Homo sapiens: one gene and its partner. The protein of the gene in region 2 purifies or fractionates together with the protein of the main gene of each other region. This does not show direct contact. Each region holds a gene or a part of one and is shown on either strand. Other genes may lie near its edges.

What was found. Proteins that work in one complex are often made in the same cells at the same time.
Region 1: the proteins of AGBL4 (region 2) and ZNG1C purify together in Homo sapiens (affinity purification with mass spectrometry; one large-scale study listed by BioGRID and IntAct). This does not show direct contact.

What each region holds. Positions count from the first base shown.
Region 1 is NC_000009.12:68,247,630-68,252,993, forward strand, and holds part of ZNG1C (zinc-regulated GTPase metalloprotein activator 1C), read left to right. Parts: coding exon 1-80; intron 81-1,176; coding exon 1,177-1,268; intron 1,269-5,364.
Region 2 is NC_000001.11:50,013,305-50,018,668, reverse strand, and holds part of AGBL4 (cytosolic carboxypeptidase 6), read left to right. Parts: intron 1-5,364. UniProt on the Homo sapiens protein: Metallocarboxypeptidase that mediates protein deglutamylation of tubulin and non-tubulin target proteins.

The DNA of each region.
Region 1 (5,364 bases), on a different chromosome or scaffold from region 2:
TCCTTAGCTGTCAGCCAAGGTGGAGAGCTCTATGAAGAGTGGCTGGAACTTAGAAACGGTTGCCTCTGCTGTTCAGTGAAGTGAGGAATGTGTTTACTGTGTACATGGTTTACTAGAAATGTTTATTGATTATATTTCCAGCTTTAATTTTCTTGAGTAATTTAACTGAATTTACACAGTTTGCTTCATTGTATTTTCAAACAAATAGAAAATAAACTTATTAGGAAGCATTTTCTTAAAGTGTTTCTTGCTGTCTTTTCTATCTGCTCTAATGTTTTGGTCCTTTTATTGAGTTTTTATTGCTTTTGATGTCAGGGCTTATTTAATCTCTAGTGCATGAAAGTCTCATATGTAAAAAATGATTATTCTGAATTTAATCTGTCATTGGTCATACTTCTAAGTGTTCAACCTTATAAAAAATAAATGACTATCAAAAAAGAAAAACCTTACATTATGTTCTAGTAGTTAAGTTTCCAAGGACAGTGATCACTAGTCTACCATAGACCCTAGAAGAGTTACCCAACACATAGTAGCACTCAAATATTTGTTGAATGAATTATAAAAATGACTACTTGTATTGTTAATTTTGTGTATTCTAGTGAATTAAATCTCTTCGGCATCATTTACTCCCTTAGGTATTTGACTTTGTGTCAAATGTTTTGGCAAGGATAAAATTATAACAGACTTTCTTGAACAACCAAAATGTAATCTATTAAGGATTTTCCTTCACTTTTGATAAAATAAGAAAAAAGGAATTTAAAACCTTGCATCCTAATGTAAAATAGAATTATATGGTGTTTAATATCAGTGTCCCTTTAGCTATTATATTAAACTACTATAGTTAATAAATTTTATCATTATTTTGTATGTTGGTTTTTAAAAATTTCATAAAGCTATAAAAAGATACTTGGTCAGATAAAGTTTCCTCTGCTTTTAATTTTAATAAAGTATTATTATGTATATGATTTCTTTTTACCTATTATATATATGCATCTATTGTTTTCTCACTGGTAAATATGGGACAGACATTTTGTTAGAAGGTTAGAAGTGAGTTAAATTTTCACATTCCTAAGGATACTTTTGTCTCGGGTTGTTGAATACATTTTAAAGTGTTTATAATAATCACTTCAAAATATTTAGGTAATTAACTGTAAATTATGTTTTGGTATTCTCCAGGGACAATGGCCTTAGAGCTATTGAGAATTTGATGCAAAAGAAGGGGAAATTTGATGACATACTGTTAGAGACCACTGGATTAGCAGACCCTGGTAAGAAGTGAGATTATTAATAACCAGAATATAGTTCTGTGATATATTGTAAATAGATGTATTAGAGGAATATCTAAAATGAGTATTAAAGCTTTTGTTAGTATTAAACCAAAAACTTTTTTTGGTTTAAAAGAGGAAAAGTACTCGTTTGTCATTTTCTTTGGCAGTTGAATGAATGATCAGAGTATTTCTTGGTGCTTTTAAGCTGTTAATAGAATTGGAAGTTTTATTGATTGATTTAGGATTATTTGTAAGAACAGAAGTTGTTAAAAATAAGGACATGTAGGAAGAGCAGAGACGTTCTACTTCTAAGTACAGTTGTCCCTTGGCATCCATGGCGTATTAGTTCCAGAACCTCTGAGGATACCAAAATCTATTAATGTTCAAGTCCCTTACATAAAATGGTGTAGTATTTGCCTATAACCTATGCACATCCTCCCATATACTTTAAATCATCTGTAGATTACTTATAATACCTAATACAATGTAAGTGCTGTGTAAGTAGTTATTATACTGCATTGATAAGGTAATCATGACAAGAAACTCTAAACTCTACTATGGAAAGCTACACAGAGTCAACCTGTTTCTCACAATGGGTTTCTGTTACCTTCTTACCAAGCTCTAATTCTTGATAAAGTCTGCTTATTTTCCCCAAATAACTTTTAGATAAAATCTTTATTTTCAGTTTGCATAAAAGTTAGTGCTTATTCTGTGAATCTGACCCATACCATTATTTTCTTTTTGATCTGGGTCTCTGGCATTGGGGCGATTTGTAAAACTATATTAAAGTATTTGGGGGTAATTTACTAAACAGGTCATAGTTGTCCAAAAGAAATATTGAAGTATCCTGAGAGTTCAAATGTGATCAGTGGTTATTGTACTTAAAACAATTACGTAGTAACATCATCCCCATGTTTTCAAAGTAGTATTGAATTAGGCTATTTTGGTCCTTATAGTAGGCATGGGTTTTCATACCTTTCTGATAAATCTGACTGATGATAGGACTTGGACTAATATGTTGGCGTTAAATATTATTTGAATCTGGTAAGAAAGAATATATTGTATGCTTTTATTAGAAATAGCAAATATCAGTTTATTTCATCATAGCCAGTTTTGCCATTTTATAGACAAAAACTTGATACTTTTGAGAGTTTAATTAAACACTATTCAGCTTTTCAGAGGAAGAAAGAAAAACTAAAGATCACAGAGAAAGCTTTTATACAAATTGTAGTTATAAAAAATGTTAATGTTTCTTGCTTCTAACTTTCTTTACAATAAAGATTTTATTGTTTGGGTAAAGATGGAACATTCATTGTAAAAAAATTTAAATACCTAAAAAATACAAAGAAGAAAGTTGAAAAGTAATCATCTCACTATTGTGATATACAAGTAAGGGCTGGGCATGGTGGCTCATGTCTGTAATCCCAGCACTTTGGGAGGCTGAGGCAGGTGGATCCCTTGAGGCCAGGAGTTCAAGACCAGCCTAGCCAACATGGTGAAATCCAGTCTCTACTGAAAATTCAAAAACTAGCCAGGCGTTGTGGCGCACCCCATAATCCCAGCTACTCAGGAGGCTAAGGCATGAGAATCGCTTGAAAGCTGGGAGGCGGAGGTTATGGTGAGCCGAGATCACGCCACTGCACTCCAGCCCAGGCAACAGAGCAAGACTGTATACACACACACGCACATGCACACGCACACACACACACACACATTCATACACACACACACAAGTAGGTAAATTTTATTCCAGGGATCTCTCTATGCCAGTGCTACTTGGTAGTATGTTGAATGGCAGCCTCAGCCTCAGCTGGGAGCTTGTTAGAAATGCAAATTCTTGACCAACCCAGATCTACTGAATCGGAATCTCTAAGGGAGGGGGTCAAGCAAGCTGTTTTTAATAAGCCCTTCAGGTGATTCTTATACTGTACAGCCATACCGCAGGGATATTGTGGGCTTAGTTCCATATCACTGCAGTAAACTGAATATCACAATAGAGTGAGTCACACACATTTTTTTGTTTCCCATTGCATATAAAAGTTATGCGTTTTGGCCGGGTGTGATGTGACAGGCCTGTAGTCCCAGCTACTTGGATCACTTGAGCTCAGGAGTTTGAGGCTGCAGTGAGTCATGATTGCACCACCGCACTCCAGCCTGGATGACAGCATGAGACCCCATTTCTTAAAAAAAAAAAAAAAAAAAAAAAGCTGTGTTTATACTATACTGTAGTCTATAAAATGTGTAATAGAATTGTCTAAAAAACATACATACCTTAATTAAAAATATTTATTGCTAAAAAATGCTAACGATCATCTCAGCTTTCAGCAAGTCATAATCTTTTTGCTGGTAGAGGGTCTTGCCACAATGTTGATGGGTGCTGACCAATCAGGGTAGTAGTTACTGAAGGTTGGGGTGGCTATCGCAATTTCATAAGATAATAATGAAGTTTGCTGCATTAGTTGACTCTCCCTTTCATAAAAGATGTCTCTATAGCACATGATGCTATTTGATAGCATTTTACCCACAGTATGACTTCTTTCAAAATTGGAGTCAGTCCTCTCAAACCCTGCTTTATCAATTAAGCTTCTGTCATATTTTAAATCCTTTGTTGTCATTTTGACAGTGTTCATAGCATCTTCACCAGGAGTAGATTCCATCTCAAGAAACCACGTTCTTTTCCCGTCCATAAGAAACAACTTCTCATTAGTTAAAGTTTTCTTATGAGATTGCAGGAATTGAGTCACATCTTCAGACTCCCCTTCTAATTCTAGTTCTCTTACTGTTTCCACCATATCTGCAGTTATTTCCTCCGTTGAAGTCTGAAATCCCTCAAAGTCATCTGTGAGGGCTGGAATCATCTTTCAAACTCCTATTCATGTTGATACTTTGATCTCCCATGAATCACGAATGTTCTTAATGGCATCTAGAATGATGAATCCTTTCCAGAAGGTTTTCAATTTACTTTGCCTAGATCCATCAGAGGAATCACTATCTATGGTAGCTATAGCCTTATGAAATATATTTCTTAAATAAGACTTAAAAGTCAAAGTTACTCCTTGATCAGTGGGCTGCAGAATGGATGTTGTGTTAGCAGGCATGAAAACAACATTAATCTCCTTGTACATCTCCATCACAGCTCTTGGGTGATCAGGTGTGTTGTCAATGAGCAATAATATTTTGAAGGAATCTTTTTTTTTCTAAGCAGTAGATCTCAATGGTGGGCTTAAAATAAACCATGCTGTAAACAGATGTGCTGTCATCTAGGCTTTATTATTTATAGAAAACAGGCAGAGGAGATTTAGCATAATTCTTAATGGCCCTAGAATTTTCAGGATGGTAAATGATTATTGGCTTCAACTTGAAGTCACCAGCTGCTTTAGCCTCTAACAAGAGAGTCAGCCTGTCCTTTGAATCTTTGAAGCCAGGCATTGACTTCTCTATAGCTATGAAAGTCCTAAATGGCATCTTCTTCCAAAAGGAGGCCATTTCATCTCCATTAAAAATCTGTTGCTGGCCGGGCTCGGTGGCTCATGCCTGTAATCTCAGCACTTTGGGAGGCCGAGATGGGCAGATCACGAGTTCAGGAGTTTAAGACCAGCCTGGCCAACATAGTGAAACCCCATCTCGACTAAAAATACCAAAAATTAGCCTGGCTTGGTGGTGGGAGCCTGTAATCCCAGTTACTTGGGAGGCTGAGGCAGGAGAATGGCTTGAACCCGGGAGGCGGAGGTGGCAGTGAGCTGAGATTGCACATTGCACTCCAGCCTGGGTGACAGAGCGAGACTCCATCTCAAAATAAATAAATAAATAAATAAAAAATAAGTCTGTTGCTTAGTGTAGCTACTTTCATGAATGATGTTAGCTACATCTTCTAGGTAGTTTACTACAGCTTCTATATCAGCATTTGCTGCTTTCCCTTGCACTTTTATGTTATGGAGATGGCTTCTTTCTTTAAATCTTGTGAACCAACCTCTGCTACCTTCCAACTTTTCTTCTCTAGCTTCCTCACCTCTCTCAGCCTTCATAGAACTGAAGAGAGTTAGGGTTGCTCTGAATTAGGCTTTGGCTTAAGGGAACATTGTGGCTTGTTTGATCA
Region 2 (5,364 bases):
CTTTCAATGAAAGCTACTAAAGATCTATATATATTAAGAAAGTCAGAGGATGTGAATATTTTGCATATATATTCTAAATAAAATCACAGCTTTCTCTTTGAGTCATTTAAGAACAGCACAGTTCTATGTGAGTTTCAGAGTATTTTTATTAGTTGTTAAATTTCAGCAATGGAGTATTAATTTTAATACAGATTTAAGGAAAAATTTCATTCTTAGATGAATTTGATGTTTCTCATTATAAAAATTATTGCAAGTTTAAAAGCTTGCAGTACTTCATTGATAGTGTTCACCATATTGGAATATGCTAATCTTTGCTTTTTATATTCCTCATTTATTTAATGGGATCCATAAAACAAATTTCTCTTTTTTAAAACTTCAAAGGAAGATGTTTTTATTTGTCATATGTATTTAAGAACTGTTGGGTGTATACTTTTGAGTCTCTAAACAGACTTGGAAAAAAGTGTACTTTCATGTCATCTGAAGGAAAACAAAGCAATGAAACACAAAAAGACTTCTAAAATTTTATATAGGATTGAAAACTTTTATATAAGATTGTCAATTCCTAAATAAATATTTTGAAAAATATTATAGAAATAAATCTCTTGGGGAAGGGACATCAAAAACAACCTGCCAATAATTACAGTTTGCTTGTCTTTCTTTCAGGAGTAATAGATGAATCTCTGTGTCTTGGCTTTGTGGAAGAAATTACTATTATGGGCTGTGTTACTTTATTTATGTATTTATGTATGTTTGTATTTTTATTTTATTCCATTTCAACTTTTATTTTAGGCTCATGGGGTACATACACAGGTTTGTTATATGGATAAATTGCATGTTGCTGGGGTTTGGTGTACAGGTTATTTCATCACCCAGCTAATAAGCATAGTATCCAACAGGTGGTTTTTCAACCCTCACCCTCCTGCCCCTCTCTACCCTAAAGCAGGTCTTGGTGTCTTTTGTTCCCTTCTTTGTCTCCATGTGTAATTAGTGTTTAGCTTCCACTTATAAGTGAGAACATGCGGTACTTGGTTTTCTGTTCCTGCGTTAATTCCCTTAGTATAATGGCCTCCAGCTCCACCTATGTTGCTGCAAAGGACATGATCTTGTTTCTTTATATGGCTTTCTTTTTTATGTGTAGTATTCTGTGGTATATATGTATATAATAATTGAGGAGTAGGCTAGGATTTTCGCAGTTGTATTTGATTGAGTCCTCCTCAACTGCCCACTATAATGGATAGGATTGTGATAGATAGGCGGATGTTCATGTTTATTGATGGGAAAATTTGAAATATAATCGAGATAGGGGCTAGTTTTTGTCATGTAAGGAGAAGTATGCCAGATATTAGAGAAGTTCCTTGGGTCCTCTCTGGGACTCAGAAGTGAAAGGGGGCTATTCCTAGTTTTATTACTAGGGCCGTTATTATTATTAAGGATGAAAATTGATTAATAGTATTTATTATTGTTCATTGTCCAGAAGACAGGTTATTGGAAATGATAGCTATCATGAGAATTATAGATGTGGTTGCTTGTGTAAAGAAATATTTGCTGATGGCTTCTGTAGAGCGGGGATTTATTTTATGTATATATATATATATCACATTTTCTTTTCCCTGTCCACTGTTGATGGGCTTTGGGTTGATTCCATGTCTTTCCTATTGTGAATAGTGTGGCGATGAACGTATGTGTGCATGTGTCTTTATGGTAGAACAATTTAGATTTCTTTGGGTATATACTCAGTAGTGGGATTGCTAGATCAAATGGTAGTTCTAAGTTCTTTGAGAAATCTCCAAAGTGCTTTCTACAGCAGCTGAACTAATTTATATTCCTATTAACTATGTGTATGTGTTCCCCTTTCTCTGCAGCCTCTCCAGCATCTGTTGCTTTTTGACTTTTTAGTAATAGCCATTCTGACTGGTGTGAAATGGTATTTCACTGTGGTTTTGATTTGCATTTCTCCAATAATTAGTGATGTTGAGCATTTATCATATGCTTGTTGGCCGCATGTATGTGTGTGCTGAGCATTGCTTGTTGGCCACATATATGTCTTCTGAGAACTGCCTGTTCATCTCCTTTGCCCGCTTTTTATTATTTTTATTTATTATTTTTTGAGACAAAGTCACACTCTGTCACCTAAGATGGAGTACAGTGGCACAATCTTTGCTCACTGCAATCTCTGCCTCCTGGGTTCAAGTGATTGTCCTGCCTCAGCCTCCTGAGTAGCTGGGATTACAAGCACACACCACCATGCCTGGCTAATTTTTGTGTTTTTTAGTAGAGGTGGGTTTTGCCATGTTGGCCAGGCTGGTCTGGAACTCCTGACCTTAGGTGATCTGCCCACCTTGGCCTCCCAAAGTGATACGATTACAGGCATGAGCCACCACGCCCAGCCTGTTAATTTGTTTAAGTTCCTTATAGATTCTGGATATTAGACCTTAGTTGAATGCATAGTTTGCAAAAGTTTTCTCCCATTCTGTAGGTTGTCTGATTACTCTGTTGATAGTTTCTTTTGCTGTGCAGAAGCTCTTTAGTTTAATTAGGTCACACTTGTCAATTTTTGTTTTTGTTGCAGTTGCTTTTCATGTCTCCATCATCAAATCTTTGCCAGGGCCTATGTGCAAAATGGTATTTCCCAAGTTTTCTTTAGGGTTTTTACAGTTTTAGTTTTTACATTTAAGTCATTAATCCATCTTGAGTTGATTTTTGTATATGTTTCAATCTTCTTCATGTGACTAGCCAGTTATCCCAGCACTGTTTATTGAATAGGGAGTCATTTCCCTATTGCTTGTTTTTGTCTACTTTGTTGAAGATCAGATAGTTGTAGATGTGCAGCTTTATTTCTGCTTCCTCTGTTCTGTTCCATGGGTCTTTGTGTCTGTTTTTGTACTAGTACCATGCTGTTTTAGTTACTGTAGTGTTGTAGTATAGTTTGAAGTCAGGTAATGTGATGCCTCTGGCTTTGTTTTTTTTGTTTGTTTTTGCTTAGAATTGCTTTGGGTATATTTATTTATGTTTTGAGACAGGGTCTTGCACTGTCATTCAGGCTGCAATACTGTAGAATGATCATGGCTCACTGCAGCCTTGATTTCCCAGCTCAAGTGATGGTCTCATCTCAGCCTCCCAACTGGCTGGAACTACAGGCACATGCCACCACGCATAGCTAATTTTTTAATATTTTGTAGAGGCAAGGTCTCACTCTGTTTCACAGGATTTTTATTTGTTTTTAAAATTACTTGTTTATTCAAAACTATACTGAATACCTTCTATGCATCAAGCATTGTGCTAAACTCTGGAAATTCACAGATGTATTATAAAAAGTCCTTGCCTTCAAGGAGCTCCTATCCTAGTGGAGGAGAAATAGAGCTAGAAAATTATCATTCAGGCAACATAGAGTTGTACACAGAATTCTGAGGCCAGAGAACGGTTCCCTGACAGCCTGGGGGTAGTGGTCGTAGTTCAAGAAGGTGTCTTAGATTAGAATAAGGGACACATTAATTGAGTCTTGAATGATGAGAAGGAATTAGCCCAGTGGAAGTGGTAGGCAGAAGTGTGGAGAGAAGGAATGAAGGGCAGAGAAAACAACATGTGCATCACAAACTTGTGGAGGTGAGAGAATAATGCTCACTTAGAATGTTGTTAAAATTGCACACCTATTAACAGAGCTAAAGACTATATTTCTTCCTTTCTCCTCAGATTCTTAAACATTTCTGGAGTCATAGATTCCCTTGATTAACTGATAAAAACCAATGAATTCTTCCTCATGGAAATGCACAGTACGTGCAAGCACACAAAAATTTGAAATGATTTCAAGGTATGAAATCCTGAAGCTCAAATTAAAAATCCTTTTGGCTGGGCATGGTAGCTGATGCCTGTAATCCCAGCACTTTGGGAGGCCAAGGCAGGTGGATCACCTGAGGTCAGGAGTTCGAGACCAGCCTGGCCAACGTGGTGAATCCCCGTCTCTACTAGATATACAAAAATTAGCCGGGCGTGTTGGCTTGTGCCTGTAGTCCCAGCTACTCAGGAGGTTGAGGCAGGAGAATTGCTTGAGCCTGGGAGGTGGAGGTTGCAGTGAGCTGAGACTATACCATTGCACAGAGCAAGACTCTCTCCAAAAAAAAAAAAAAAAAAAAAAGAAATCCTCTGTTCATTAGTTATGAGGTCTATTTAGGAAACTGATCTTGAAAGTAGGAATACTTTGGTGAAAAGGGTTGATCTAATAACATTTGTATTAGAGCAGGTCCAAAGCAAATGCTGGCCCCTAAATTGTTTTGTTTATCTTTTTCTTTATCTTTTTTTTTTTTCGAGACAAAGTCCCACTTGGCCAGGCTGGAGTGCAGTAGTGTGATCTTGGCTCACTGCAGCCTCCACCTCCTGGGTTCAAGTGATTCTCCTACCTCAGCCTCCCAAGTAGCTGGGACTACAGGTGCATGCCACCACGCCCAGCTAATTTTTGTATTTTTAGTAGTGACAGGGTTTCACCGTGTTGGCCATGATGGTCTCGATCTCTTGACCTCGTGATCTGCCTGCCTCAGCCTCCCAAAGTGTTGGGATTACATGTGTGAGCCACCACACCTGGCCTTTAAAACCTCATTTGGATGTATCTGTCTCTGTTGACAGTGTGACATAATAAATAGGGCATGGATTTTGAAATTACAAAGATAAGATTTAAAACATTCAACTCTACCAATTAATGTGTAATAGTGTTTCTCTAACCCAGTTTTCATGTTTAAATGGAGATACTAGTCCTTTATCAAATAGGGTTGTGAGGTGTATGTAGTGCATATAGTATAGGAGAAACTGTCTTCACTAAGTAATTGGATTAATTGGTGCCTTTCATTCTATTAGACATACAGCTTTATACATGTTTAAAGATCTTCTCCAGTCATGTAACTACCCCAGGTGCTTTAAGAAAACAATTTTATAAATGTATTTGGATGGAACATCAGACCCTGTGTCATAAACATATTAGGAAGAACTTAATAATTTTAATAAAAATTGGAAATATGTTCCTAAGCTGTAATACTGTAACTTCTTATCTTAGTAGTGTCATTACCAATGATGTACCATCACAAGAATAGCAGTGATTATGGGAAATGCTAGTAAACTTTTTGCAGCTTACTAACAATTGTAAATGTTTTAAACTTTCCTATAAAAGACTAGAAAGCTTTTATCTCAGTTTAGGTTTATCAAATTGTGGGGTCTTTAATTTGCATCACACATATTATACAGCTGGATGAAAACCAAATGATTTAATAAAAGTGGTGGGTAATTTTTTATTCTTTTCTCTAATGAGACTGATTCTTTTGCTTCAATTTAATAGAAACTACACATGGTCTAGGACTCAGCTTCACGAGAGAAACTTTC